Homo sapiens: one gene and its partners. The protein of the gene in region 1 interacts with the protein of each later gene in a pairwise test. Each region holds a gene or a part of one and is shown on either strand. Other genes may lie near its edges. The genes, in order: NAT8, TMEM143, GOLT1A and JPH1.

The links.
Region 2: the proteins of NAT8 (region 1) and TMEM143 interact in binary tests that used the Homo sapiens proteins (3 or more experiments, as listed by UniProt).
Region 3: the proteins of NAT8 (region 1) and GOLT1A interact in binary tests that used the Homo sapiens proteins (3 or more experiments, as listed by UniProt).
Region 4: the proteins of NAT8 (region 1) and JPH1 interact in binary tests that used the Homo sapiens proteins (3 or more experiments, as listed by UniProt).

What each region holds. Positions count from the first base shown.
Region 1 is NC_000002.12:73,639,849-73,647,458, reverse strand, and holds NAT8 (N-acetyltransferase 8), read left to right. Parts: upstream 1-5,036; 5' UTR 5,037-5,141; intron 5,142-5,756; 5' UTR 5,757-5,830; coding exon 5,831-6,514; 3' UTR 6,515-6,736; downstream 6,737-7,610. UniProt on the Homo sapiens protein: Endoplasmic reticulum (ER)-membrane-bound lysine N-acetyltransferase catalyzing the N6-acetylation of lysine residues in the lumen of the ER in various proteins, including PROM1 and BACE1, using acetyl-CoA as acetyl donor.
Region 2 is NC_000019.10:48,353,490-48,361,107, forward strand, and holds part of TMEM143 (transmembrane protein 143), read right to left. Parts: intron 6,688-7,618; coding exon 6,583-6,687; intron 1-6,582.
Region 3 is NC_000001.11:204,203,744-204,211,361, forward strand, and holds part of GOLT1A (vesicle transport protein GOT1A), read right to left. Parts: intron 1-7,618. UniProt on the Homo sapiens protein: May be involved in fusion of ER-derived transport vesicles with the Golgi complex.
Region 4 is NC_000008.11:74,311,123-74,318,740, reverse strand, and holds part of JPH1 (junctophilin-1), read left to right. Parts: intron 1-3,120; coding exon 3,121-3,880; intron 3,881-7,618. UniProt on the Homo sapiens protein: Junctophilins contribute to the formation of junctional membrane complexes (JMCs) which link the plasma membrane with the endoplasmic or sarcoplasmic reticulum in excitable cells.

The DNA of each region.
Region 1 (7,610 bases):
AGCAAACTCCAACAGACCTGCAGCTGAGGGTCCTGACTGTTAGAAGGAAAACTAACAAACAGAAAGGACCTCCACACCAAAACCCCATCTGTACATCACCATCATCAAAGACCAAATGTAGATAAAACCACAAAGATGGGGAGAAACCAGAGCAGAAAAGCTAAAAATTCTAACAATCAGAGCGCCTCTCCCGCTCCAAAGGAACACACCTCCTTGCCAGCAACGGAACAAAGCTGGACAGAGAATGACTTTGACGAGTTGAGACAAGAAGGCTTCAGACAATCAAACTTTTCGAAGCTAAAGCAGAAAGTTCAAACCCATCGCAAAGAAGCTAAAAAGTTTGAAAAAAGATTAGACGAATGGCTAACTAGAATAACCAGGGTAGAGAAGTCCTTAAATGACCTGATGGAGCTGAAAACCATGGCATGAGAACTATGTGATAAATGCACAAGCCTCAGTAGCCAATTCGATCAACTGGAAGAAAGGGTATCAGTGATTGAAGATCAAATGAATGAAATGAAGCGAGAAGAGAAGTTTAGAGAAAAAAGAGTAAAAAGAAACAAACAAAGCCTCCAAGAAATATGAGACTATGTGAAAAGACCAAATCTACATCTAATTTGTGTACCTGAAAGTGATGAGGAGAATGGAACCAAGTTGGAAAATACTCTGCAGGATATTATCCAGGAGAACTTCCCCAACCTAGCAAGGCAGGCCAACATTCAAATTCAGGAAATACAGAGAACGCCACAAAGATACTCCTCGAGAAGAGCAACTCCAAGACACATAATTGTCAGATTCACCAAAGTTGAAATGAAGGACAAAATGTTAAGGGCAGCCAGAGAGAAAGGTCGGGTTACCCACAAAGGGAAGCCCATCAGACTAACAGCTGATCTCTTGGCAGAAACTCCAATCCAGAAGAGAGTGGGGGCCAGTATTCAACATTCTTAAAGAAAAGAATTTTCAACCCAGAATTTCATATCCAGCCAAACTAAGCTTCGTAAGTGAAGGAGAAATAAAATTCTTTACAGACAAGCAAATGCTGAGAGATTTTGTCACCACCATGCCTGCCCTACAAGAGCTCCTGAAGGAAGCACTAAACCTGGAAGGGAACAACCGGTACCAGCCACTGCAAAAACATGCCAAATTGTAAAGACCGTCGATGCTAGGAAGAAACTTCATCAACTAATGAGCAAAATAACCAGCTAACATCATAATGACAGGATCAAATTCACACATAACAATATTAACCTTAAATGTAAATGGGCTGAATGCTCCAATTAAAAGACACAGACTGGCAAATTGGATAAAGAGTCAAGACCCATCAGTGTGACCATCAGGAGACCCATTACACGTGCAGAGACACACACAGGCTCAAAACAAAGGGATGGAGGAAGATCTACCAAGCAAATGGAAAACAAAAAAAGGCAGGGGTTGCAATCCTAGTCTCTGATAAAACAGACTTTAAACCAACAAAGATCAAAAGAGACAAAGAAGGCCATTACATAAAGGTAAAGGGATCAATTCAACAAGAAGAGCTCACTATCCTAAATACATATGCACCCAATACAGGAGCACCCAGATTCATAAAGCAAGTCCTTAGAGACCTACAAAGAGACTTAAACTCCCACCACAATAATAATGGGAGACTTTAACACCCCACTGTCAACTTTAGACAGATCAACGAGACAGAAAGTTAACAAGGCTATCCAGGAATTGAACTCAGCTCTGCACCAAGCAGACCTAATAGACATCTACAGAAGTCTCCACCCCAAATCAACAGAATATACATTCTTCTCAGCACCACATCGCACTTATTCCAAAATTGACCACATAGGTGGAAGTAAAGCACTCCTCAGCAAATGTAAAAGAACAGAAATTACAACAAACTGTCTCTCAGACCACATTGCAGTCAAACTAGAACTCAGGATTAAGAAACTCACTCAAAACCACTCAGCTACATGGAAACTGAACCTGCTCCTGAATGACTACTGGGTACATAATGAAATGAAGGCAGAAATAAAGATGTTCTTTGAAACCAATGAGAACAAAGACCAGAATCTCTGGGACACATTTAAAGCAGTGTGTAGAGGGAAATTTATAGCACTAAATGCCCACAAAAGAAACTCCATCATCCCAGCCCAAAAATCTCGTTAAGCTGACAAGCAAATTCAGCAAAGTCTCAGGATACAAAATCAATGTGCAAAAATCACAAGTACACCAATAAAAGACAGAGAGCCAAATCATGAGTGAACTCCCATTCACAATTGCTTCAAAGAGAATAAAATACCTAGGAATCCAACTCACAAGGGATGTGAAGGACGTCTTCAAGGAGAACTAAGTCCTAACTGTCAAGTTCACCTTCCTAACAAAGTTATTCCGGATGTGATGTCTCCACCATCGTCCTGGTCCCAGAGCCCCATCAGGTGTGTCCTCCTGGGCAGCAGCCTCGCTTCTGACATCTGGTGCCTTCATGCCAAGTCCAGGCACAGCACATAACAAGCCTTCGGCCACTGTTTGTTGAATGAATAAATGAATCTTTCAGGTCCGACAAGGAAAGCCCAGGCTTTTATCAGGAAAGCTACAAAAATGCAGAAGTCACAGTAAATCCTGGGAGCAAGAGACGCCTGAATGTCAAGTGAGGTCGCTGTGTTTTGAGGAAGCCACAGCCACGGGTGAGCATGGAGGGAGAGACAGCACACAGGGACGGAGCACAAACCTCTCCCCCTCCACGTGACCGGCAGGTTTCTGACTGAATATTGGTTAGACTCACACTAGAAGTACTCAGTGGTGCTTTGGAGCCACCGCTCACCTCTTTTGATTCCTAGGCCAACTCCTGCTTGACACTGAAATGTTGCGAGAACACTCTAAAGATGAGCCATGGACTTCCTGCCCAGACTTGATGCTCCTTAGACTTTTCCTCGGAGGTGGTGTTGGGTACCAAAGATCTGGAATCTCAGCAGCCTCCACTGGCTGGCCCTGGGTTCCTGCTGCTGACTCCCAGCTTCTGGTTTCTGCTGAAGAAGGCTGCAGGGCAGCACCTTTAGGGGAAGCCTTGACTTTTCCAGATCTGGGCTCTCTCCAGTGTTTTCCTGAATGCCCCTACCAGAAGCCTGGCTGTCGTCTCTGAGCCCTTCCTCATCCTCCTCCCTGTGTGAATCATTCCAACTCCTGCCATTTCTGCCCCAAATGCACCTCCATACGGCTCATGTCTCACCTTCTTGACTTCCTCCCTCTGGTGAAGCCACTGCTGTCTCATGGGCCTCTGCTAACCCAGGCGGCTTCTTTGTGAACCCAGAGCTAGGCACAGCCTCAAGCCATGCAGCCCACTGGATGCAGAGTTTAGCAGGCAAGCAACGCCTTTGAGCAAATAAGAAAAGGTTGCCTTTTCCTTTGGCCAGTCTCAGTTTCGTGCCATGGCTCATGGCTTGGCAACCAGAGGGAGGCCCAGTTTTAGCTCCCACCAGAGCCTCTGGGCCAGCTGCTCTTGTACAGTGAGCACCTGCATCCCTGTACTGGAGGCCCCGCTCTTGCCTGGATGTGGCATGAGCCTTGAGGGGTAGCTGCTTCCATTCCTACCTCCTCAGATCCATTGTCCACCTGCAGCCAGAGTGATGCTTGCGTGCGCACACACACACACACACACACCTCCTCCCCTCCGTGCATATCAATGTCCTCCCCTTGCTCTTGGAATAGAGTCCAAACTACCTAACCTAGATGACGGGCCCAGCGTGGCTGATCATCAATAGGTTAGCTAATCTTTGGAAGGGAAGTTTCCCTTCAATAGCATGTAAGTTGGTGTGGAAAAGGGCTTTTTCTGTTAGGTTTTGCTTTTGCCTATCTTGTATATGTTGCATCCTTGTAATTGGGCCCCTTGAGATTTCAGCACCACACCATGTTTTAGTGACTGAAATAATGAACATTCTGATCAGACCGTTGCTGGCTTGCACATGTTAACCACTTGCTTTTGGTCCAATATTCCTTGTTCCCACAACATAATGATAAACTGCTCATGTACTGTTTCTTTGTTCAGCAGGAAGACATTCCTTCAGGGTCAGGAAAAGTTTGCAGAATGAATGAATGCCTTGAAGGACACTGTGACCAGCTGCTGACACTGAGAAGCCTGGTTGCACAAGGTGTTATCTCAGACTGAGGAAACACAGACTTTTCCTCTCAATCCCCCTGAACTCCCCCTTCCTCACTCTCTAGCTGCATAAAAACATTCTGCTGCTGCTTCTTTGTTGAACTGAAGTTGAGAGATCTTGCTCTCCTGCCTTCTTGCTTTGGCCAAATCGAATACAACTTTCTCTATCTCCAAGCACCCATGTGTCAGTGTTTGGGATCAGCTCCACGTCGGGTACAAGAGCATGAATTTGGGCCTCCCCAACATCTGCAGTGCAAAATATTTAACAACGGGTGTGGCACAGCCTCTGACCAACAGCCAGAACACACACAAGCCACACACAGCCATGCCTGTCAAGCCGAATGTCAACCTTGCTCATGGCTGAAATGACCCCAGGACACAGGAAGTGCATGACACACAACTGTTGACTGAATCAATGAATGGGTGGAGATGGGGGTTGGTGAGGTGAGTGCAAGGAACTGCCAACAACAGATGCTTCGTGGACCAGGGAAACCTCAGCGAGGAGAAGCCTAGCTGGGAAGGGCCTTGTTGCCAAGCATGGGGACTCGGCTTCTGGCCAATGGTGACTGATTGCAGGGTGAATGGTACAGTTCTCAGGCTCGTCGTATATGTGTACAAGGACCAGGGTGGATCGTATATGTGGACAGGGACCGAGAGTACTAAGTGTGCCAGGTGGCAGAGAGATGCACGGGGCCTGAACAGGCAAGAGAGGTGGCAGGCCTTCCAGAAGGGCAAGGAACCCAGGCGGTTCCAGACCCTGAGTCTCCCCCTCCAGGTCGTTCCCTTTGACCACAAAGAGGAATGCACACTGGGCTCCCTGCTGTGTTACAGCCCAGCTCTTTGACCCTAGGGTTGATGATTACCAAACATTCAGGAGCCAAGCAATAAGGCAGGCAGTCTACTTTCCAGGGGTGAGCAAGCCCCAGACGGTATCTCCTGGATGCCAGTGAGCGGCTGAGAGCTGAAGCTCCCTGGACACTCAAGGCTCTTGTGGTGACAGGTGAGGGGACTGGGTGGAAGGACAGTGCTCTGAGCATGCACCTTCCTTGGGATCTGGAGGCTGGGCTGTTTTTTATGCTTGGCTCTTATGCCACTTCAGCAACCTAAAAACTTACAATAAAGCTGGAGGGAGCCTTTCCTGAAACTTGTGTTGGACAGAGAATTTTTGCGATGTATGGTCCCTGGAGAAGGACAAAAGGGTTGCACGTGTGGCCTGCCTGAGGTAGGTGCCCCCTCAATGCACGGAGAAGCTGAGAGAGCCAGAAAAAGGAAACAGAAAAAGGAAGAGCGGTGGGTAGTTCATCTACCAGGGCTTTATAGAAGGCATCTTATTCAATCTTCAAAACAACTCTAGAAGGCAGGTTTTCTTCTCCCCTGTTCTATAGTTGAAGAAATGGAGGCTCAGAGAGGTTAAGTGACATGCCTAAGGTCACACAGCTAGAAAGGGATGGAACCAGATTCCAATGCAGGTCTTTCTGACCCTACCTTCTCCCAGTGGCAGAGGCCTGCTTCCTCATGGGCAAACGCGGAAAGACACACCCTTGAGCAGGTCTCCCTGTTCCTGCAAGGCTGGGAGCCATGCAGGCACTCACATGATTTTCTCTCTCTTCCCCAGTCTGACGTAAAGGCGTGCAGGGAGGCCTAGCTCTGTCTCCTGGACTTAGAGATTTCAGACACAGAAGTCTGTCCATGGCTCCTTGTCACATCCGCAAATACCAGGAGAGCGACCGCCAGTGGGTTGTGGGCTTGCTCTCCCGGGGGATGGCCGAGCATGCCCCAGCCACCTTCCGGCAATTGCTGAAGCTGCCTCGAACCCTCATACTCTTACTTGGGGGGCCCCTCGCCCTACTCCTGGTCTCTGGATCCTGGCTTCTAGCCCTCGTGTTCAGCATCAGCCTCTTCCCTGCCCTGTGGTTCCTTGCCAAAAAACCCTGGACGGAGTATGTGGACATGACATTGTGCACAGACATGTCTGACATTACCAAATCCTACCTGAGTGAGCGTGGCTCCTGCTTCTGGGTGGCTGAGTCTGAAGAGAAGGTGGTGGGCATGGTAGGAGCTCTGCCTGTTGATGATCCCACCTTGAGGGAGAAGCGGTTGCAGCTGTTTCATCTCTTTGTGGACAGTGAGCACCGTCGTCAGGGGATAGCAAAAGCCCTGGTCAGGACTGTCCTCCAGTTTGCCCGGGACCAGGGCTACAGTGAAGTTATCCTGGACACCGGCACCATCCAGCTCTCTGCTATGGCCCTCTACCAGAGCATGGGCTTCAAGAAGACGGGCCAGTCCTTCTTCTGTGTGTGGGCCAGGCTAGTGGCTCTTCATACAGTTCATTTCATCTACCACCTCCCTTCTTCTAAGGTAGGGAGTCTGTGATCTCTTTCTGTGTGTATTGGTCAGAATAGAATCCATTCAGCTGTAGCAGCAAGCAATCCCCAACCTTTCACTGCAATGACCTTTCAATGCAATAAAAGCTTATTGTCCATTCACATCTGAGTCCCATGTGATTGCTTGTGGGGTAGCTTCTGGGTTTCTGCTTCATTCAGTCTTTTTGATTCCCATCTGTTTCATTTTTCTAGTGCCAGCATAATGTTGCATAAGAACAACCACCAAATGAAACAAATATTTATTTAGTTCATGAGTCTGAAGTCAGCAATTTTGCCTGAGCTTGGCTGGGCAGTTCCTCTGGTGTCAGACTGCATTGTACAAATGCAGTGGGATTGGCTGAAAGACTAGGTCAATGGTGCTGTTTCGTTTTCCCACAGGCTACCTCAGGCATGGTTTCAAGGAAATTGCAGAGGAGCAAAAACAAAAGCAGAAACAAACAAATGTGTTTTCAAACCCCTGCATGTGTTGCATCTTCCCCAAACTCAAGGAGAGGAACCTGTCTCTGCAGTGAGAAGGGCTGCAAAGTCACATAGCAAAAGGGTGGAATGCAGCCTCGGGAGAAGAATTGGGGCCAGAGACACAACCAATCCACTCTAACTCCAGGGTCTCTGCAGAGGGAAGAAGGTGGCCTCAGAGGGGAGTGTGGGATTTACCATGGGCTAGACCTGGAAGTAGTATAACTCTTCCAGGGGATCATAACAGAATACCTGAGACTGGGTAATTTATAAGGAAAAGAGGTGTATTTGGTTCATGGTTTTGCAGGCTGTACAAAAAGCACAGTGCAGGCATCTGCTTCTGGTGAGGGCCTCAGGAATCTTTTACTCATGTTGGAAGCTGAAGGGGGAGCAGATGTGTCACATGGCGAGACAGCACACAAGAGAGATGCTAGGTGCTTTCAAACAACCAGCTTACATGTGAACTAATAGAGCCAGAACTCATTCATTATCATGGACAAAGCACCAACCCATTCATGAGGAATCCACCCCTATGAGCGAAACACCTCCCACTATGCCCCACCTCTAACATTGGGGGTCATATTTCAACATATGATTTGGAGAGAACAAACATCTAAACTATATTGGTC
Region 2 (7,618 bases), on another chromosome or scaffold:
CAAACGATTTTTTTAGTTTAACTACATCCCATGCAATATTGGATGACTGTATTGCATAGGACACACTTCCACTGTACTAAAAAATTACACATAGTTTATCTGAAATTCAAATTTACTGGGTATAATGAGTTGAATGTTGTCCCCTAAAAATTTACATCCCTTTGGAACCTCAGAATATGATCTCATTCGGAAATAGGGTCTTTGCAGGTAGAATTAAGGTAAAGATACAGATGAGATCATACTAAATTAGGGTGGAACCTAAATCCAATGAGAGTGTCCTTATAAGAGACAGAAAAGGACACACATAGGACACCGAGAAGGCAGCCACAGGAAGATGGAGACAGGGGTTGGAGTGACTCATCTACAAGCCAAGGAGCACCAAGGGTTGCTGGCAGCTACAGGAAGCCAGGAGAGACACCATAGATGCTTCCCTCTCAGGGCCTCCACAAGGAAACATCTTTTAATACATTTCACTTCTTTTTTTTTTGAGACATAGTCTCACTCTGTTGCCCAGACTGGAGTGCAGTGGTGCGATCTTGGCTCACTGCAGCCTCCGCCTCCCGGGTTCAAGTAATTATCCTGCCTCAGCCTCCGGAGTAGCTGGGATCACAGGCATGTGCCACCACACCCAGCTAATTTTTGTATTTTTAGTAGAGTCGGGGTTTCACCATGTTGGCCAGATTGGTCTCGAAATCCTGACCTCATGTGATCCACCTGCCTCGGCCTCCCAAAGTGCTGGGATTATAGGCGTGAGCCACCGCGCCCAGACTTTTTCTTTTTTTTTTTTTTTTTTGAGACATAGTCTTGCTCTGTCACCCAGGCTGGAGTGCAGTGGTGCGATCTCAGCTCACTGCAGCCTCCGCCTCCTGGGTGCAAGTGATTCTCCTACCTCAGCCTCCCGAGTAGCTGGGACTATAGGCACCCGCCACCACACCCAGCTAATTTTTGTATTTTCAGTAAAGATGGGGTTTCACCATGTTGGCCAAGCTGGTCTCGAACTCCTGACCTTAAGTGATCCGCCCACCTCGGCCTCTCAAAGTGCTGGAATAACAAGCGTGAGTCACTGTGCCCGGCCAAATTTCACTTCTGTACCTTGTTGCTGGTCTCTTCCTCAGTAGAACAGAGCCTGTGAGGTACATCTCTCATGCTGTCCACTGTCTCCCAGAGCCTCAAGCCATTCCAGAGACACAGTAGGTGCTCAATAAATATTTACTGAGCGAACTCAATGAATGAATGAATCAGCGAAAAAAGATCAGAGAGAGGTCACCCGCCAAGGTCACCCGCACCACTAGTGAACAACCAAGCTATTGTTTGAACCGAGGCTATGCTGCTTCTTTCCCTGCCCAGGCCACATCTTCAAAGGACTTAAGTCATCAGCAAATGGTCACCCAGCGGGCCTCACCCGCCTCTGCCACTTCTACCCTGCCCCTGCCTCTGTTTAAAATCTCCTGCCTGGGAGATATATGCTTATTCACTTATGTTCTTTCTACATTTCTATATATTTATACATTTCTATAATAAAATAGGCTTTTTTTAACTTTTTTTTTTTAAGAATCTTGCTCTGTCACCCAGGCTGGAGTGCAGTGGCGTGATCTTGGCTCACTGCAACCTCCACCTCCCGGGTTCAAGTGATTCTCATGGTTCAAGTGATTCTCATGCCTCAGCTTCCTGAGTAGCTGGGACTACGGGCACCCCCCACCACAACCGACTGATATTTATATATTTAGTACAGACAGTTTCACCGTTTGCCAGACTGGTCTCGAACTCCTGGGCTCAAGTGATCCGCCTACCTCGGCCTCCCAAAGTGCTCAGATCACAGACAAGACATACCAAGCCCAGCCTTAACTTTTAAAAAAATAGAAAAAGAAAAAAACAACCGTGGCTCCAGAGGCCATAGGTGCCCTGTGGAAGAGCTTGGAGGCAGGCAGACGGGGGCTTGATCTCGACTCCACCAATTATGAACTGTGTGATCCTGGGCACAACCCGGGCCCTCTGAGACATTCAGTTTCTCCATGTATGAATGGGCTGATGGCGGCTGTCTCTCCGCACTGCAGGAAGGAGTCAATAAGCCAGACACAGCAAGCGCTCAGCAACAAGGGGCTGTGATGGCCACTGTTGCTGGGGTTGTTATTATTCAAAGCAAAGTGCGGAGCTGCAGAAGGCAGTGGTGGGATGTGGCGAGGGGTGAATGCAGCAGGCCTGGGTTGTCCAAACCCCGCACATTCCAAAGAAAGGACCGGCCCTGGACCAGCTTCTGGGAGGGAACCTCTAAGCCCTTGGAATGTCCTGACTGATAAGAGTGTCTTGGTTTACCTGGGGCCTGGGGCCACACTGGATGCTGTGTGTTAATGTTGTCATCTATGGTCAGGGCCTGGAGCCACTGAGCATCAGTTTGACCTCGGAGGGGCTGGAGTCTCAGGTCAGCCACCATGCATATGTGACTGACCCCCAGTAAAAACCCTGGCCACCCAGGCTTACAGGAGCATCCCTGGTTGGCAGTACTGCTTGCGTGTTGTCACACATCTTGCTGGGAGAATTAAGTGCCGTCCATGACTCCACCGGGAGAGGACAGCTGGACGCTCACGCCTGGTCTGTCTTGGATTCTGCCCCATGTGCCTTTTTCCTTTTTTTTTCTTTTTTTTTTTTGGGATGGAGTCTCACTCTGCTGCCCAGGCTGGAGTGCAGTGGCACAATCTCAGCTCACTGCAACCTCCGCCTCCTGGGTTCAAGTGATTCTCCTTCCTCAGCCTCCTGAGTAGCTGGGATTACAGCTACTGGGATTACAGCGCCACTATGCCCAGCTAATTTTTGTACTTTTAGTAGAGACAGGGTTTCACCATGTTGGCCGGGATGGTCTCGATCTCCTGACCTCGTGATCTGCCAGCCTTGGCCTCCCAAAGTGCTGGGATTACAGGCGTGAGTCACCACGCCCGGCCCTCCTTTTTTTTTTTTTTTTTGAGACAGAATTTTGCTCTGTCACCCAGGCTGGATAGTGCAGTGGCAAAATCTCAGCTCACTGCAACCTCCGCCTCCTGGGTTCAAGCGATCTCCTGCCTCAGCCTCCCAAGTAGCTGGGATTATAGACATGCGCTACCAGGCCCAGGTAATTTTTTTTTTTTTTTTTTGAGATGGAGTTTCACTCTTATTGCCCAGGCTGCAGTGCAATGGTGCGATCTTGGCTCACTGCAACCTCCTCCTCCCAGGTTCAAGCAATTCTCCTGCCTCAGCCTCCCGAGTAGCTGGGATTACAGGCATGCACCATCACACCCAGCTAATTTTGTATTTTTAGTAGAGACGGGGTTTCTCCATGTTGAGGCTGGTCTCGAACTCCTGACCTCAGGTGATCCGCCCGCCTCGGCCTCCCAAAGTGCTGGGATTACAGGCGTGAGCCACAGCACCTGGCCTTTTTTTTTTTTTTTTTTTTTTTTTTTTTGAGATGGAGTCTCACTCTGTCACCCAGGCTGGAGTGCAGTGGCGCGATCTCGGTTCACTGCAAGCTCCGCCACCTGGGTTCAAGCGATTCTCCTGCCTCAGCCTCCTGAGTAGCTGGGATGACAGGCACATGCCACCACACCTGGCTAATTTTTGTATTTTTAGTAGAGACGGGGATTCATCATGTTGGTCAGGCTGGTAATTTCTGTATTTGCAGTAGAGACAGGGTTTCGTCATGCTGGCAAGGCTGGTCTCGAACTCCTGACTTCAGCTGATCCACCTGCTTTGGCCACCCAAAGTGCTAGGATTACAGGCGTGAGTCACCGCGCCCGGCAGTACTACCATCTATTAATAGATCCTCCCACAGCAGTTTCTCAGCCCAGACCTCTCCCTTCACCTCCAGATCCACATATTCAAGTCTATCTTTCTTTTTTTTTTTTTTTTTTTTTCTGAGACGGAGTCTCACTCTATCGCCCAGCTGGAGTGCGGTGGCGCAATCTTGGCTCACTGCAAGCTCCGCCTCCCGGGTTCACGTCATTCTCCTGCCTCAGCCTCCCGAGTAGCTGGGACTACAGGCGCCCGCCACCACGCCCGGCTAATTTTTTTTTGTATTTTTAGTAGAGACAGGGTTTCACCGTGTTAGACAGGATGGTCTCGATCTCCTGACCTCATGCTCCGCCTGCCTTGTCCTCCCAAAGTGCTGGGATTACAGGCATGAGCCACCACGCCCGGCCTCAAGTCCATCTTTCTACCTGCCTTTCTAAAAGGCAGCTCAATGGATAAAGAAAATATGGTCTATATACACCATGGAATACTACTCAGCCATAAAAAGGAACAAAATAATGTCTCTTGCAGTAATTGGATGGAGTTGGAAGGCCATTATTCTAAGTCAAGTAACTCAGGAATGGAAAACCAAATAGCCGTATTCTCACTTTATAAGTGGAAGCTAAGTAAGCTATGAGGGTGCGAAGATACACAGAGTGATATAATGGAATTTGGGGACTCAGGGAGGGGGGTTGGGATGGGGGTGAGGGACTACATATTGGGTATAGTGTACACTGCTCTAGTGATGGGCACACCAAAATCTCAGAATGCACCACTACAGAATTCATCCATGTAACCAAAAAGCACATGTACCCCAAAAACTACTGAAATAAAAAATGTTTTAATTAAAAAAGAATGGGCCAGGCACGGTGGCTCACGTCTGTAATCCCAACACTTTGGGAGGCCAAGGCAGGTAGATCACGAGGTCGGGAGTTTAAGACCAGCCTGAGCAACATGGTGAAACCCCATCTCTACTAAAAATACAAAAATTAGCCAGGCGTACTGACACACGCCTGTAATCCTGGCTATTCGGGGGACTGAGGCACAAGAATCACTTCAACCCGGAAGACAGAGGTTGCAGTGAGCCAAGATCGCACCATTGCACTCTAGCCTGGGCAGCAGAGTGAGACTCTGTCTCAGAAAAAAAAAAAAATATATTAGAATAAATAAATTCATAAATAAATGGTAGCTCAAATTCTTAAGTCCAAAACTGAGCTCTCAGTCCTCCCTGCAGATCTTTCTCCCCATCCCACCACGGTCTCCCCCATCCCAGTAAATGGCAGCTCCATCCTCCAGGAGGCTCAGGCCAGAACTGCTGGAGACGCACCCCTACTCCTCTCTCTTCCTCCCCAGAACACCCCCACAGCCAGCACATCAGCAAAACGCTGATGCCTTCCAACATAACCAGCATCTGACCGTTTTTCACCATTTCCATCGCTATTACCCTTGTCGGAGCTTCCATTATCTCTCCCCTAGACAAATATAATAGACTCTTTCATAGATGTCCCTGCCTCTGATAGTCTGTTCCCTACACTGCAGCCAGAGAAATCCTGTTAACACCTAAATCCGCTGCTCACATCTCTCCTCAGCTCAGAGCCCTCCCATGGCTCCCGGCTCACTCAGAGTCAAAGCAAGGTCCTCGGCCTGGCACAGTGGCTCACGCCTGTAATCCCAACACTTTGGGAGGCCAAGGCGGGTGGATCACTTGAGGTCAGGAATTCAAGACCACCCTGGCCAACATGGTGAAACCCAGTCTCTACAAAAAGTACAAAAATTAGCAGGGGGAGGTCGTGGACGCCTGTGGTCCCAGCTACTCAGGAGGCTGAGGGAGGAGAATCGCTTGAACTGGGGAGGCGGAGGTTTGCTGTGAGCTGAGATCGCACCACTGCACTCCAGCCTGGGCAACAGAACAAAAACTCCATCTGAGAAACAAAAACAAACAAACAAAAAAACAAAGCAAGGTCCTCACAGTGGCCCACAAGGCCCAGTACGATCTGTCCCCATCCCCTCTGCCCTCATATCCCACCCTCCCCGCACATTCACTCTCCTGCAGCCACAGTGGCCTCCTCACTGTTCAATACTCCAGGCCTCCACTCACCTCAGGGCCTTTGCACTTGCTCTTCCATCTGCCAAGAACATCCTCCCCCAGGCATTCATCAGGCTCGTTCCCCCTCTTCACTAAGCCTTTAGCCCACATGTCACCTCCTTGGGGAGCCCTTCCCCACCCACCCCGTCTGAAACAGGCCCCATCTCACCCCTCTTTGTTTTTTTTTTTTTTTTGAGACAGAGTTTCCTCAGTCGCCCAGGCTGGAGTGCAGTGGCGCAATCTTGGCTCACTGCAAGCTCCGCCTCCCGGGTTCATGCCATTCTCCTGCCTCAGCCTCCCGAGTAGCTGGAACTACAGTCGCCCCCCACCACGCCCAGCTAATTTTTTTGTATTTTTAGTAGAGACGAGGTTTCACCGTGTTAGCCAGGATGGTCTCGATCTCCTGACCTTGTGATCCACCCGCCTCAGCCTCCCAAAGTGCTGGGATTACAGGCGTGAGCCACCGCGCCCGACCCATCTCATCCCTCTTTATCTCACTACTCCGCCTCATTGTTCATGGCACTTATCACCACCAGGCATCATATTTTATATTTATTTGATTCCTTGTCTCCCCACTTGGAATGTTGGCTCCATGAGGGCGTCACTTCACCTGTCATGTTCACTATTGAATCCCCAGCACTTAAAATAAGGGCCAGGCTCCAAGAAGGTGTCAGGGAATGTTTGCTAAATGAGCGGATGCTCGAACAAGCACCACAGGGCTGGAAGGGCCCCGTCCTCACCTGCAGCCGGGCCAGGATTTGGTGGTAGTGGAACAGGGTGCAGAAGTCCACGTGGGCCGAGAACGCCTCCAAAGCCGCCTTCTCTGCCGGACTCGAGTGGAATTCCTGTTACCTCAGGAAGCAAAACTTCTCTGTAGGCCTTTTCCCCTTCCCCGAGGGAAAGAATTCTTTCCCTGGCTGCCTAACTACACAATCAGAGCTCTGGACTTTGAAGTTTTGTTCTGGGGCTGGGCGCAGTGTCTCGCACCTGTAATCCCAGCACTTTGGGAGGCCGAGGCAGTGGATCACTTGAAGTCAGGAGTTCAAGACCAGCGTGGCCAACATGGTGAAATCCTGTCTCTACTAAAAATACAAAAATTAGCCGGGCGTGATGGCATGCACCTGTAGTCCCAGCTACTCAGGAGGCTGAAGCTGGAGAATTGCTTGAACCAGGGAGGCGGAGGCTGCAGTGAGTCGAGATCGTGCCACTGCCCTCCAGACTAGACAACATCAAGACTCTGTCTCAAAAAAAAAAAAAAAAAAAGTTTTGTTTTGGTTGGGTGGGGGCTGACCAATTTTACTGAAACTGAGGCAGCCAAATATAGTGAAAAACTATACTGGGCTTAAAAAGCTGGAGGTTCAAGTTTTTGCTTTGACATTTCCTAGCCAATACACACACACACAATTCCAGGAACGGTTTGACAGTGTAATATCATCCTCCAGAAGTAGATGGAATTATTATTATTATTATGTTGAGACAGAGTCTCGTTCTGTCACCCAGGCTGGAGCTCAGTTGTGCAATCTCAGCTCACTGCATCTTCAACCTCCTGGGATGAAGCGATCCTCCCACCTCAGCCTCCTGAGTAGCTAAGACTACAGGTGCCCACCACCATGCCTGGCGAATTTTTTTCAATTTTTTGTAAAGGTGGAGTCTCACTATATTGCCCAGGCTGGTCTGAACTCCTGTGCTCCAGCAATCCTCCCACCTCAGCCTCCCAAAGTGCTGGGAGGCTGAGCCACCATACCCCCAAGGTTGATGGAATTATAACTCCCATTT
Region 3 (7,618 bases), on another chromosome or scaffold:
TTGGGCAGTTCTGCCGAGGTTGGACCCACACTGACAATGAGCCCCCATTCCCAAGGTTTGACAGTGAGCCCCCATTCCCAAGGTTTGACAGTAAGCCCCCATTCCCAAGGTTTGTAAGTGTCTCAGGGCATTCTTTGAAGCTGCAGGAGTTCACTCAGAGCCAGCAAGCGTAGCCTAGAAGTGCAGGACATGAAGGCCCCCTCGTTTGGTCAAGGGCTACATTTTTGACATTTTGATAAACATATTTCAGATCGCTCCCCTCAAGACGATTTGTACAATAACCGGATATATAGTTCCTTTTTTCCTTAACCCTCTCCAGCACTCAGAATTGTTCATTTTACTTATCTTTGCCACTATGATAGTCAATAAATAAAAATTCATTCTGTTGCTTTGTTTTTAAATTGTTACCTTTTTAAGTTTTAAATTGTGGCAACGTGCACATAAAATGAGACTTACCATCTAACCATTTAAAAATGTACAGTTCAGTGGTATTAAGCGCATCTCCTGAATTCTTCGTCTTGCAAAGCTGAAACTCTACACCCATTAAACAGTAGCTCCCCATTCCCCTCCCACCAGCCTCCAACAACCACCATTTTACTTTCTCTATGAATTTTTGACTACTCTGGGAACCTCCTATAAGTGGAATCATACAATATTTGTCTTTTTGTGACTGTCTTATTTCACTTATCATAACGTTCTCAAGGTTCCTTCATGTTGTAGCATGTGTCTGAATTTTCTTCCTTTTTAAAACAGAATAATAGTCCATTGCTATCTGTACCCTGCATTTTGTTGATCCATTCATCTGTTGATGGACATCTGGGTGGCTTCCATCCATCTCTTACCTATTGTAAATAGTGTTACCATAAATATGAGCATAAGAAAATATCTCTTCAAGACACTGCTTCCGATCCTTTCAGGTATATACCCCACAAAGTGGAATTAACGGAATTATACTGGATCACATGGTAATTCTATTTTTAATTCTTTGAGGAATTGCCATTTTGTTTTCCATTGTGACTGCACCATTTAACATTCCCAGCAACAGTACACAAGAGTTCTAATTTCTCCACATCTTGCCAATACTTTATCTGTTTTGTTTTGTTTTGATAGCAGCCATGCTAATGGGTATAAGGTAGTATACATTGTGGTTTTGACTTACATTTCCCTAATGATTAATGATTAATGATCTTTTCATGTGCTTGTTAGCTATGTGTATATCTTCTTTGGAGAATTGTCTAGTTAAGTCCTTTGCCTATTTTTTAAACAGGTTGTTCTTTTTGTTGTTGAGTTGTAGGAGTTCTTTATATATTTTGGATATTAACTATGTAGCGTATGATTTGCAAATATTTCCTCCCACTCTGTAGGTTACCTTTCAGTCTGTTGACTGTGTCCTTTGATGCGGTGAAGTTTTAAATTTTGATGTAGTCTGATTGATGTCTTTTTTTTCTTTTGTTGTCTGTGCTTTTCATGTCATAACCTAGAAATCATTATCAAATCCAGTGCTGTAATGCTTTCCCCTATTTTTTATTCTAAGAGTTTTATAGTTTTAGCTCTTATTTTTAGGGCTTTGATCTGCTTTGAGTTACTTTTTGCAGATAGTATAAGGTAAGGATCCACCTGCATCTTTTGCATGTGGATATCCAGTTTTCCCAGCACTATCTGTTGGAAAGACTGTTCTTTCCCCATTTCATGGTCTTGATGCCCTCGTCAAAAATTTTACTGGACTTGTTAGAATCAGTTCTCATAACCTCTATGAAATTGGTATTATTATTATGCTTTTGCAGATAGTTGTTAAAAGTGAGGGGAAAAATTATTCTGGTGTTTAGAGGCAGAATTGTAAAAACAAAAACAAAATTATCAAGACTAGATTTACTGGCTGAGTTTTATTTACAACTGAAAGAAAATGAAACAACATAATCATCTTCTGGGTAGTTAATCCATCATCTGTTGCTATGCAGATTTTAAGAGGATTAGGATCAATTCCAATACAGAAAAAAGGTCAAAGAGCTTCTTTAAAAGAATCATCAAAAATACAGCAATGAAGCCAGGTGCTCAATGGCTCACACCTGTAATCCCAGCACTTTGGGAGGCTGATGTGGGTGGATCACTTGAAGTCAGGAGTTCAAGGCCAGCCTGGCCAACATGGTGAAACCCCGTCTCTACTAAAAATACAAAAATTAGCTGGACATGGTGGCATGCGTCTCTAGTCCCAGCTACGTGGGAGGCTGAGGCAGGAGAATTGCTTGAACCCGGGAGGTGGAGGTTGCAGTGAGCCGAGATTATGCCACTGCACTCCAGCCTGGGTAACAAGAGCAAAACTCCATCTCAAAAAAAAAGAAAACAGAAAAATACAGTGATAAGATCTAGCATTCAAATTATAGACTGAAACCTTGCTCAACTCATAGTCTGGTATCATGCCAGTCTTACTGGATCTCACTTTTGGCAGAAGCTGGATTTTGTTGGGACCCAGTGTAACATAATTTCTCTCAACATATCACCCAGCTGCCCAGAATCCATTTTCTACTAAAAGCTGATTCCTTGTGTTCCTGACAAGCCTCGTGATCTATTTGGGCTTGTTTCCTACTTCTACCTCCTCCTGCTGGCCTGAATTAAATCTCTTAGAAGCTGGGACAGCTCAGCAGAATATCACCCCCATGGGTCATGATGAAGGTTGTGTTTTGTCAACATTTCCATCCTCAGAGACAACACATTGAGAATCTAGAGTTACATCTACCTGAATTACCAAGATAATTTCGTGTAGGTCAGAATATTGTGGAGGAAGACCACAGTCATCTTTCTTTAACCCAAATGATAAAAGTGTTTTAGGTTTTTATGCTTGTTATAAAATATCTGTTGTTGGCTTATGCCTGCCATAAAAACATCTGTCATTGATTTCAGCTCTGACTATACACCCTTTCCTCCCCCTCAGTAGGTGTATTTGTGTGGAAACACGATGTGCACATTTTACGGGGTTTTCATTTCGTTTTGTTGAACTTTCTATATGTTCATCCTGCACACACTTAAGAACAGCCTCATACTCATTTTGTGGAAACAGCGTAAGTTTCTCACATTCACACATGATGTCCATTCTCCTGTTTATTCCTTCTTCTTCTGCAGCAGTGATTTGCTGGCTGCCATAGTTATCCCTCCTCCACCTGTTCTACACTCTTCTTTAAGGGCAGATGCAATTCCAGGACTCTCCTGTGATGGGGGCAGCCTTCTTTATGGGCCACACTTAGTGCTCTCAGTGCTCAGTGGGACACGAAACCCCACAGAAAAGGGTCAGAAACTCTGTTTCTCACACACAAGCTTCAGACCCGCCTTTGCCTCTTGCTTCTGGAGTAGCTTAGCTATTTTAGTCAAGTTATCCAGCCAGAGGTTACTCCTAAAGTTCTTTTCAGGCAGCAACCATGGCAGAAAGAGTGGAGGGGTGGGGATGTCATACAGATGCCCCCAGGAGTGACAGGTGTGCCTGCCCGGCACGGTCCCCGTGATCCAGACAGATTGGGCAGCGCGCCCTCTGCTGGAGGCGGCCAGGGCTGTCACGCCTACACCCAGCCGAAAAAAGCTGGGAGGCCAAGGTAACTTCAGGGAGGCCCGGCTCTCCAGGCGCCACCTAGAAGTGGAGACCTCCCCAGACCTCAGAGACCAGCTTTAGATCTCCCTGGCAAGGTACACTGATGGCTGCACTGGTGCCCTTGTTTAGCTCCTTGCTCTGCAACTCCCGAGTTGCTGCCAAGAAGAGCCCATGGCCACCCGATACGGACAAGCCAGGCTTCCCTGACTCCCCATTTTGTGGCTCACTTTAAGAAAAGCCAGGTTCAATGTCTTTCTTGCTCCAGAAATCAGCTACAGCTCCAAGAAAACAATATCTCATGGAGCAGGCAGATGAGTCCTTCTGGCCTCAGGCACGCAGTGAGTCTCAGAACATCATCGTCTTTTTTCCCCCTTTTCCTTTTCTTAAAGCAATCACACATGTACAGGAAACTTGCAAGTACAGTACAAAGAATATTTTTCTTGAACCATTTGAAAGTAGTTGCCACCTCATACCTCATCACCCCTGAATGCTCTGGTGTGGTTTTTAAAACTCCTGGACACTAAGGACATGAATAGACAATTCTCAAAAGAAGATATACAAACAGCCAACAAACATGAAAAAATGCCCAACATCACTAATGATCAGGGAAGTGCAAATCAAAACCACAATGTGATACCACCTTACTCCTGCAAGAATGGCCATAATCAAAAAACAAACAAACAAAAATAAATGTTGGCGTGGATGTGGTGAACAGGGAACACTTCTACACTGCTGGTGGGAATGTAAACTAGAATAGCCACTATGGAAAACAGTGTGGAGATTCCTTAAAGAACTAAAAGTAGAACTACCATTTCATCCAGCAATCCCACTACTGGGTATCTCCCCGGAGGAAAATAAATCATTATACGGAAAAGATACTTGCACATGCCTGTTTCTAGCAGCACAGTTTGGAATTGCAAAAATATGAAACCAGCCCAAATGCCCATTAGTCAATGAGTGTATAAATAAATTGTGATGTGTATATATATACACACACATATACATATATATGTATACATATATACACACATGTATGTATATATGTGTGTATCTATACACATATACACACATATGTATACATATATGTATATATGTATACATATGTGTATATGTATACATATGTGTGTATATATGTATACTTGTGTGTGTGTGTGTGTATATATATATATATATATATATATAAAAAATGAACTACTACTCAGTCACAAAAAGGAATGAAATAATGGCATTCGCAGCAACCTGGATGGAATTGGAGATCATTATTCTAAGTGAAGTGACTCCGGAATGGAAAAGCAAACATCATATGTTTTCACTCACAAGTGGGAGCTAAGCAATGAGGATGCAAAGGCATAAGAATGATACAATAGACTTTGGGGACTCATGGGAAAGGGTAGGAGGGGCTGAAGGATACAAGACTACACATTGGGTACAATGTACACTGCTCGGGTGATGGGTGCACCAAAATCTCAGAAATCACACTAAAGAACTTATTCATGTAACCAACCACCTGTTCCCCAAAAACCTATTGAAATAAACAAGCAAACAAAAAATTCTCCTAAACAGCCAACATACAGCCATCAAAATTGGGACACTAACATTGATATGTGACTATCCTCCAACCCTCAGACTCCATTTAAGTTTCATCAGTTACTCCAGTAGCATCATTTATAGCAAAATAATCCAGTTCATCATTCTGTGTGGTATTTAATGATCATGTCTCTTTAAACTCTTCTGTCTGGAACAGCTCCTTGGTCTTTCCTTGGCATGACCTTGACACTTTTGAAGATTCAGGCCACTTATTCTGTAGCCATCCCTCCATTTGGGTTTGTCGGATGTTTCCTCACGACTAGCTTCAGGTTATGCATCTTAGGCAGAAATAGCACAAGATGTGATGCTGTATTTTTCTCACTGCATCCTGGTAGGTGGTGCAAGATGTCAATTTGCCCCATAGCTGATAATGTTTCTTTATTCTTAAGGCAGTATCTGCCAGGCCCCTCACCACCCCATCCCTGACCCTGCAGGGGATGCTTTGCCTATGATACTTTGTACCAGGCCACCCCTAGTGTGAACACCCTTCTCACCCTGCTGGGGTTCTAACACCCCACTCTGGGCACCGCCTTCTCTGTGTTAAACCTAATGGCTTTAAGACTGAATTGTTCAGGAAGAGGAAGGAGGGAAATAAGGAGAGAAAGAGCCTCATTCACTTTTTAAAATTAGCAATAGTGATTGATAGTGTAATGAACATACTGGGCCAGGCACAGTCTAAGCACATATATGCTTTAAGTATATTAACACATTTAATTTTCATAACTACCTGTGACATAGGTACTACTATTAGCACCATTTCACAAACAAAACTGAAACACAGAGGTTAAGTCACTTGCCTGGGGATACACAGCAGCTGGCAGAAGCAGGATTTGAACTTAGTCTTGAGCTCCAAACAGTGCCTTTTGGGCAGGCACGGTGGTTTACACCTATAATCCCAACACTTTGGGACGCCGAGGTGGGTGGATCATCACCTGAGGTCAGGAGTTCGAGACCAGCCTGGCCAACATGATGAAACCCCGTCTCTACTAAAAATACAAAAAATTAGCCGGTGAGGTGGCGGGCACTTGTAATCCCAGCTACTTGGGAGGCTGAGGCAGGAGAATCGCTTGAACCCGGGAGGCAGAGGTTGCAGTGAGCCAAGATCATGCCATTGCACTCTAGCCTGGGCAACAAGAGTGAAACTCCATCTCAAAAACCAAAAACAAAACAAAACAAAAAATAAAAAGTGCCTTTAACCAACCCAGTCCAGTCCACTTCTGCAGGCAATGCTCTTGCCTTGGCCATTAATGACCTTCATGTTACCAGATCCAATGGGCAGGTGTGAACCATCATCTGTTAGAACTGACCACTGCCGTGTTGAAACAGCCTTTCTCTTGGTTTGTGCACAACACGTTCTTGATTTTCTTCCTACTGCTCTAACTGCCCTTTCTCTGTCTCCTCTGCCAGCTCCTACTTCTCTCTCTTCTTCTTGGGATTTGAATTGCACAGGGCTTGTGCCCAAGCTCACTTCTCTTCTCATTCTATTTCCACATGTATTCCCATGTGTTTATTTTTGTTTTTAATTTTGTCTTAAAGCTGGGATCTCGCTCTGTTGCCTAGGCTGGAGTGCAATGGCACAATCATAGCTCACTGCAGCCTTGAACTCCTGGGCTCAAGGGATCCTTCTACCTCAGTCTCCTGAGTAGCTGGGACTACAGGCACTTGGCCACCATGCCCAGCTAATTTTTTAAAATTGGTTTAAATTTTTTTGTTGTTGAGACAGGGGTTTTGCAATGTGCTCAGGCTGGTCTTGAACTCCTGGCCTCAAGCGATCCTCCCAAAGTGCTGAGATTACAGGCATGAGCCACCACACCCAGCCTCTCACGTCTTCAAACCTCCCTTGTATGCTGATGACACTGATGTCTCTCTTTCTAGTCCATGCCTCTCTTTGGGCTTTGAAACTCATATCTAGCTGCTTACTTGGCATATCTGCCTGGTTTTCTCTCAGCCATCTTGAACTGGGCTAATCTTCAATCCCAAACTGGTCTATTTATCTTCCCTCCTTCAACTTGTGCCTCCCTTGGTTGTCCTCAAATGAGTAAACATGTCACCACCGCCCACCCCACCACTTAACGCAGAAGCCCACCCCTCCCCCATGAAATCCACAGCTAAGTTTTCTTTTCTTCTTCCAAGATACATGTTGAAAGCTGTCCATTTCTCTCCATTCTTAACACCTAATTCCCGGCCACGATCATCTCTTTCCTGGACGTATGCAGCAGCCCCCATTTGGCCTCCTGCTTTATTCCTGCACCCTCCCAGTCCTTCTCCACACGGCGCTCAAAGGTCTTGCAAAACATACAACCTGATCATGTTAGCATACTGCCTAGACTCCTTCACGGCTGCCCACTGAGATTAGACTGCAGCAGAGCCTTCTCATCCACACCACAGCTCACAGGCCCTGCCTGGTGGGGCCCAGGCCTGCCTGCCCACCTCATCTCCTGCCACTGTCCCTAT
Region 4 (7,618 bases), on another chromosome or scaffold:
TCTCCCCATCGCCACATGTCCATCCCTGTACACCCTGTATCAGATTCAGGGAAAATCTGATTCCGAGTTTTTTTGTGGTGACATTAAACTGGAGGAGGAAGGAAGCAGTAATTCCATGTGAGACGTATCACTTATTTTATTAGTGATTTGTGTATTACATGTTGCTGAAATAGAAACCCCCTGAATATTAACAATAAGTTAGTATCATACTCATGAAATCCAAGTCTAGGTGCCCAGAATTTTTTGTGCTAATTCTGATCTGTACTTTGTTTTTTCACTTGTCATAAAACTATTGAAAATATCTGGGAAAACACAACGTTTTGTTAACTAGATGCATACTTGCACATACCCATTCGGAGCATATAAACTGAAGTTTGGCATAGTGCAGTGCAAATTTGACTGAAACTCCTAAACTGGATGCCTTCCACTACAAGATTGTGTAGTTAAAATGACTAAATCTAAAAAATTAGCTCCCAAATGAACACAGTTTAAAACTGGTAAAAGTAATTTTTATACTTGTGAAATATGCATCTACATTTTAGGAATCAAGAGGAACTAATTAGAACTTTATTTGAGCAGCAGGGAGAAGTTGGAACCCACCTGCTTCATAAAGAAATAGGCCCTTTCTTATTCTAGGTTCATTGACTAAACTAAACCTATTTTAAATTTCAGATGAACTGCTAACAGTTTGACTGCAAATTGGTTTCTAGCAATTCTGTGGAGGAATTCTTTCATATACTGTGATTTAACAAAATAGGAGAGGAATGTGGCCAATGCTCTTGTCCCCCCCTTCCCTATTTGACAGTTAAGCAGAGACTTAAACTTTCTAATTATTGCTGTTGCCTTAAACAGCTTGGATTTTCAAGCCATACTTTTTTGGAAATTCTAAATACTGTACTAGTCTTATTTTTGGAGATAACAGTTTAAAGAAACTAGCTGTTAATTTTCCATCAGTGTTAAACATTTACCAAGATGGTATGGCTGTGTTTTAAAAGTGCAGATACTTATTGATATCAAACAGCATCTCTGCAAATTGTTCTAGCAAAATTAACTTGTCACTATAGACAAAAGTTAGGAGGATGTGATTATAGCATTCTTTTAACCAACAAAATATTAAAAATAAGGTGGTTTATTTTAGTATCTTCAAGCCAGATTGTGAAACTTTCATCCTAGAATTTAAATTTTACCTGTATAGGCAAAGGAAAAGTCAAAGTCAAAATTTCCTAATAATTCCATTCCCATTCCTGTTAAGATGGCGGTATTTGGAGATGGCCAGTATTCAATAGGAAGCTTCTTAGCCTGAAATGTTTTACATGACTATCTTATCCTCTTGAGTTAATCTTTCAGAGAAAACTGTGGGCCACCCACCTCCTCAGAAGTTCATAGATGTCAAGTTAAGACTTCACATCTACCCAGAATATGACATTTACAGTACCAGACCCACTTAGTATTTCATTGTATATCTACTATTGCCTGTGTCACATATGCCAGAATGAACAAAAAGAGAAGGTAGTCTTGAAATTGGTCAAAACCGTTGACTTGGGAGTCATTATGGTTTTAACTTTTAAGTGCAATGAAATAACCAGCCATTGTTAACACAGTTATATAAAACCACTAGCATTTTTGCCCGGTGTTTTGAAAATGAATATGTGCCATGCAATGGAAATCTGTGCATGGAAATATAAAATGCAAAGTGACTGCAGGGTAGATCTATATAATCAGAAATGGAAAGAGGTCAAGACAGACTAATCATTATTTGTTTTCTATGACATTGTGAATTGTTATGAATAACACAGAAGTAATTACATTTTAAATTTTCCAGATAGCTTCTTTTGAGGGATACTGTAAATTAAAATTTACCCTTAATTAAAGGAAATTGATTTTGAAAAGAAACTTCTAAATTCCCTAATTTAACATTCATTTCCTCCTAAGATTATTTTAAAACCTGTACCAGGTTATTTTTTAATGTCTTTGCTTATTTATTTAGTAGCAAAAAATTCACTACAAATGCTCTAGATGACAGACTATCATGAAAAAGCATAATATTTGTTGACAGAGTCATCTGGTATCAACATTTTAATAGATAGTGTCAAATATACCTTTCCTCTGAGATGAAGTCCAAAATGGTAACAGTAGAAGATTTCATCTGGCCTTACATCAGTTTCTCCAAGAGTAAAGGGTATACTTTTTAGCCACCATAGCTTTTTACCGTCAACATAGTCATCAAACACCCTCCATCCACAAACACAGACCAGAGGACACATGAGAATTTTGTGTTCTCATACGAAGTAATTCCTGCCCTCAGGGTGCTTCTAGTCTGTGGTGTGATTCACAATGCAGTGGCAGCTAGGGAAATCCATAGAGGATGCAGAGATTTGGCAAATGATACGGCACAAAGCTTTGGCCTTTTCACTTAGAAGCACAAAAATGTTAAATTACTCATTTTTTTCATAATTCACTGTATTCATAATATATATTGTGGTTGTCGATTCTCTCTTAGCTCAAAAAGGTTCACCCAAATTCAAATGATAATCCTGAATATTCAACAGTTTTGTCTACACTAAAAAAAGAGATGCTGAATGTAGCAGAAAATTTAAGACGTTCATTTGATGACTGTGTCCCAAGTATTCCGATTTAAGCCTGTATACTTCTTGGAATGTTATACTGACATAGACCTAAAAGTCATTTTTTACAGTTTTCCAGCTAAATTAGTAATATTAGAATAAAATTTACACATAGAATTCATTTCATCTTCTACTGTTTCCTTGTCTTCTTCCCAAGAGGAATTTTTGATGCATTAATTTCAGAGGAGAATGTTGTTTCCCAGTGTTCACTTTTTGTATTAGAAAGTAGTGGTTTTCCTCTGAAATACTTGCATAAAATTTTAATGAAAAGCAAAAATTATCTGACTACTAGAAAATTCTGTGCAATGACATTAAAGCCTTACACCCAAAATTACAGGGCGGGGATTCACAAGTGGATGCAAAGTATCCCCCAGGGTTGACTTGGAAATGGGTCAGATTTGACCTTGGGCAGGCCTGCGCCAGTGTGCGCTGGATGGTGCAGGTGACGGTGCAGCTCTGCCCCCGACTCACGGTGCTTTCTTGCGGTCTCTCCAAGGTACCTACCAGGGCCAGTGGGCCGGAGGCATGCGGCATGGCTACGGCGTGCGCCAGAGCGTGCCCTACGGCATGGCCACGGTGATCCGCTCACCGCTGCGTACCTCGCTGGCCTCGCTGCGCAGCGAGCAGAGCAATGGCAGCGTGCTCCACGACGCCGCAGCCGCCGCCGACAGCCCGGCCGGCACCCGCGGCGGTTTCGTGCTCAACTTCCACGCAGACGCTGAGCTAGCGGGCAAGAAGAAGGGCGGCCTCTTCCGGAGGGGCTCCCTTCTTGGAAGCATGAAACTTCGCAAGTCCGAATCCAAGTCTTCCATCTCGAGCAAGCGCAGCTCTGTCCGCAGCGACGCGGCCATGAGCAGAATTAGTTCCAGCGATGCCAACTCCACGATCAGCTTTGGCGATGTAGATTGTGATTTTTGCCCGGTGGAAGACCACGTGGACGCCACCACCACGGAAACCTACATGGGCGAGTGGAAGAACGACAAGCGCAACGGCTTCGGCGTTAGCGAGCGCTCCAATGGCATGAAGTATGAAGGGGAGTGGGCAAATAACAAGAGGCATGGATATGGCTGTACCGTGTTTCCTGACGGCTCCAAAGAAGAGGGAAAATACAAAAATAATATTCTGGTCCGTGGGATAAGGAAGCAGCTTATACCAATAAGACATACAAAAACTAGGGAGAAGGTGGACAGAGCAATTGAAGGCGCCCAAAGGGCAGCTGCCATGGCCAGAACCAAAGTGGAAATAGCAAATTCAAGGTAAGTAAATGCAGGGTGGTTGGTTTTGCTGGGTTGGTCAGAACAATGGAGTATCAAATATTATGTTTGTCTATCTGCCAGTGACATCGCTAAATGCTTTCTACAACTACTAAAAAATCAAAGGTGAAAAATGATTACACTCAGTAGAATCAAAGTCAGAAATGTACCTGCACTGTTCTGAAACTTCCCATCATCAAAAAATGTCGAAGGCACTTTGAGCTCCCCTTCCTGTTCTAAATTACTTCCCTCATATTTAACAGCGTGAGGGAGTTCACTGAGACCCTGTGCTCATCTTCCTGAGCCCGGAAAGTTGCTGTTTTCTTTTCTTTTTTTTGTAAGAAGGACCTCTGAAATGCTGCCATAGCAAGCATTGTGTTTTGTGTACCAAAAGAAAATAGCAATCCACGTAGAAACATACTTAGTATAGATGTGTACCTTTATTCTGATATTTACATCGGAGGTATGTACACTTAGCCTAGCTTATACAATTCAGATTCTGTTTATGAAGTCTTATAGGTAAAATTGGTTTTGAGACAGCCACCAAAATCTACATATGGCAAAAGTGGAAAATAACATGACAAAATCTGGCATGCATTGTTAAAAACAACAGCTACATGGGAAAGGCAAAGAGACCTACAAGAATCGCCACATTCTATGCAGAAGAGATTAGGTCACTGGTGTATTAAAAGGAAAGGGGTGGAGGGAACCTGACAACCTGACATGGACAGATGGGACTCTCAATGTGCCAAGGTTGGAAGAAAGAAGAGCAGTAGAGAAGGGCTGGAGTGAGTAGGAGAAAACCGGTGAATAATAGATTGACAAGTGGGGTGTATGTGTGGGCACAGAAGGACTACGTGCTTGAAGTTTTACCATTAATAGCTGGTTTCAGGGATCCAGCAAGAGGGATGGAAAAATCTATTGGGAATAAAGTTCTATTAGGGAAGGATATCATAGGTGAGACAAAAAGAAAAAGGTGTGGTAATAAATGGAAAATTTTATTTTTAGTCTTATTTAAGTGAGTACTGACTAGCCACAGCTTTGTAAGACTTGAAGCATAAATGTAGCATAGAATATTAAAAATCCTGTTTCTGCTTCAATAACACTCTTCCACAGAAGTAAACGCCCTTTTGAAACCACAAAATGTTAGCATGTCTTCAGGTTTTTGTTATTGGCATTGAATTAATGAACCTCCCTTTTTTTTGATGGAGCCATATGAAATTTCCAATGTTCAAATTTTTTAATGTACAAAAAAAAATGGTGACATCATATGGTTCAACTTAGTACTTCTAGAGTTCTTTTTTTTTTAATTCCTCTACTTAAAAAATAAGTAGGGCTACCACTAAATAAGGTTGCATATTTTGCATTACTTTTAGATATATATTATATTATATATTAAAAGTCTTCAAGGTTTTCATCTTTATCCCAAACTAATTTCATTTCAAAGCTATTATTTTTTGTTGATCAGCACAAACTTTAATGAAGGGTCTCTCTCTCTCCTGTCTTCTCTACCAGGCATCTTTTACTTCAGATCACAGTTTTGGATCTACTTTGCTTTTCAGTTTGCTTATAGATCAGATACTCAGCACATCTAATCTTGCTGGCTTACTTTTAGACCTAGTGATAAACATTTGTTAGGCCTTGACCTCTAATTTTAAATGCACACTTGGATTCTTCCATGTTTTCTTGTTACAACTTAGTGACATGCTAAAGTCAGCTCAGTCTTGGGAGGTGAAAAATGAACCTGTGCAGAACACTTTAACAAACGACTTATCATTAGTTTCCATTGGAGGAGTTTGTATAACAGAAAGCGACTGGCAATGCAGAGATGATCTCTGATTATGCTAGTATCATAAAACCCTCACCCAAGTCCTAGCCATGTTCTCTCTGTTGCAAGTCTTTTGGGGGTAGTATTATTTCATTTGGGAATACTGTATTATATAGTTATAATCAAGAGATCTTTAGTTTAAGACCTTATACTTTTAGCCAGTTAGTTACTTCATAGTTACTTAGCTATGTTTAAAATGCTTAATTCATTATGCAAATGAAAGAAGTCAGTCACAGAAAAACAAATACTGCATGATCTCACTTAATCAAATACTGCAATGACCTGACTTGATCTAAAATGGTCAAACTCATAGAAACATAGAGTAAAATGGTGGTCGCCAGGGACTGTAGGGTGGGGAAAATGGAGGGTTGCTGTTCAACAGATACGAAGTTTCAGTTACTCAAGATGAATACATTCTATAGATCTGCACTACAACACTGTGCCTATAGTTAACAATACTGCATTTTGCATTTAAGAATTTGTCAAGGTCAGGTGCTATGGTACATGCCTGTAATACTAGCACTTTGGTATGCTGAGGCAGAAGGATCTCTTGAGCCCAGGAGTTCAAGACCAATCTCTGCAACATAGTGAGACCCCCGTCTCTGCAAAAAATAAGAAAATTAGCCGGACACGGTGGCGCACACCTGTCCTAGTTACTTGGGAGACTGAGGTGAGAGGATGGCTTGAGCCCCAGAGGTCGAGACTGTAGTGAGCTGTGATTGTGCCACTGCACTCCAGCTTGAGTGTCACAGCAAGACCCTGTCTCAAAAAAAACAAAAAAAGAATTTGTTAAGAAGGTAGGTCTCATGTTAAGTGTTCTTACAACAATAAATAAAATACTGTTCGGATGACACAATCAACAAATTAAAAATAAATATATTCAATTAACCTTCTATATTTTACTTACCTTCACTGTTTTAGTCCTTTTCCCAGATTCCTTGCTATTATATAATGAATACTTCCGATTACAGCTTTGTAACTTGTTTTTGGAGGAAGCAGTTAAAGGAATGACATTCCCCTTATAATAGCTCTGATTTTAGAGTTCTACAGTCTTTTAAAACCCTTAAAAATTATTCACAATAGCAAAGACTTGGAACCAACCCAAATGCCCAACAATGATAGACTGGATTAAGAAAATGTGGCACATATACACCATGGAATACTATGCAGCCATAAAAAATGATGAGTTCATGTCCTTTGTAGGGACATGGATGAAATTGGAACTCATCATTCTCAGTAAACTTTCCCAAGGACAAAAAACCAAACACCACATGTTCTCACTAATAGATGGGAATTGAACAATGAGAACACATGGACACAGGAAAGGGAACATCACACTCTGGGGACTGTTGTGGGGTGGGGGGAGGGGAGGGATAGCATTGGGAGATATACCTAATGCTGGATGATGGGTTGATGGGTGCAGCACACCAGCATGGCACATGTATATGTATGTAACTAACCTGCACATTGTGTACATATACCCTAAAACTTAAAGTATAATAATAATAAAATAAAAAATTTTAAAAAGCCTTAAAAATAAGAAAAGATTCTTTTAAGATTTGCTGCCTGGGAGATAGGACTTTTAGCTACATTATTGTCATTAACCATGGCTCTTTCTAATGCCAGAATATCTACACAATATCTGTACAGAACATCTATCTGACCCCTCTATGGTTGCTGTTATCAATGTTTTTGTTTGTAAAACTACTGAAAATTTAAGAACATAAGATGACACTCTTCCCACCTAGCCCAGTGCAGACAGAAGAAAAACTAGAAACTAAGTCTCTTGGTAGCTGCTGCTGTTGAAGTCACTAGTTCATCATTAGCAACAAAAGGAGATGATCAATGAATAGTTATCAACTATTCAGTTTGTCCACCCAGGTAGTGTAAATCACTATTCTCAGCAACATAGT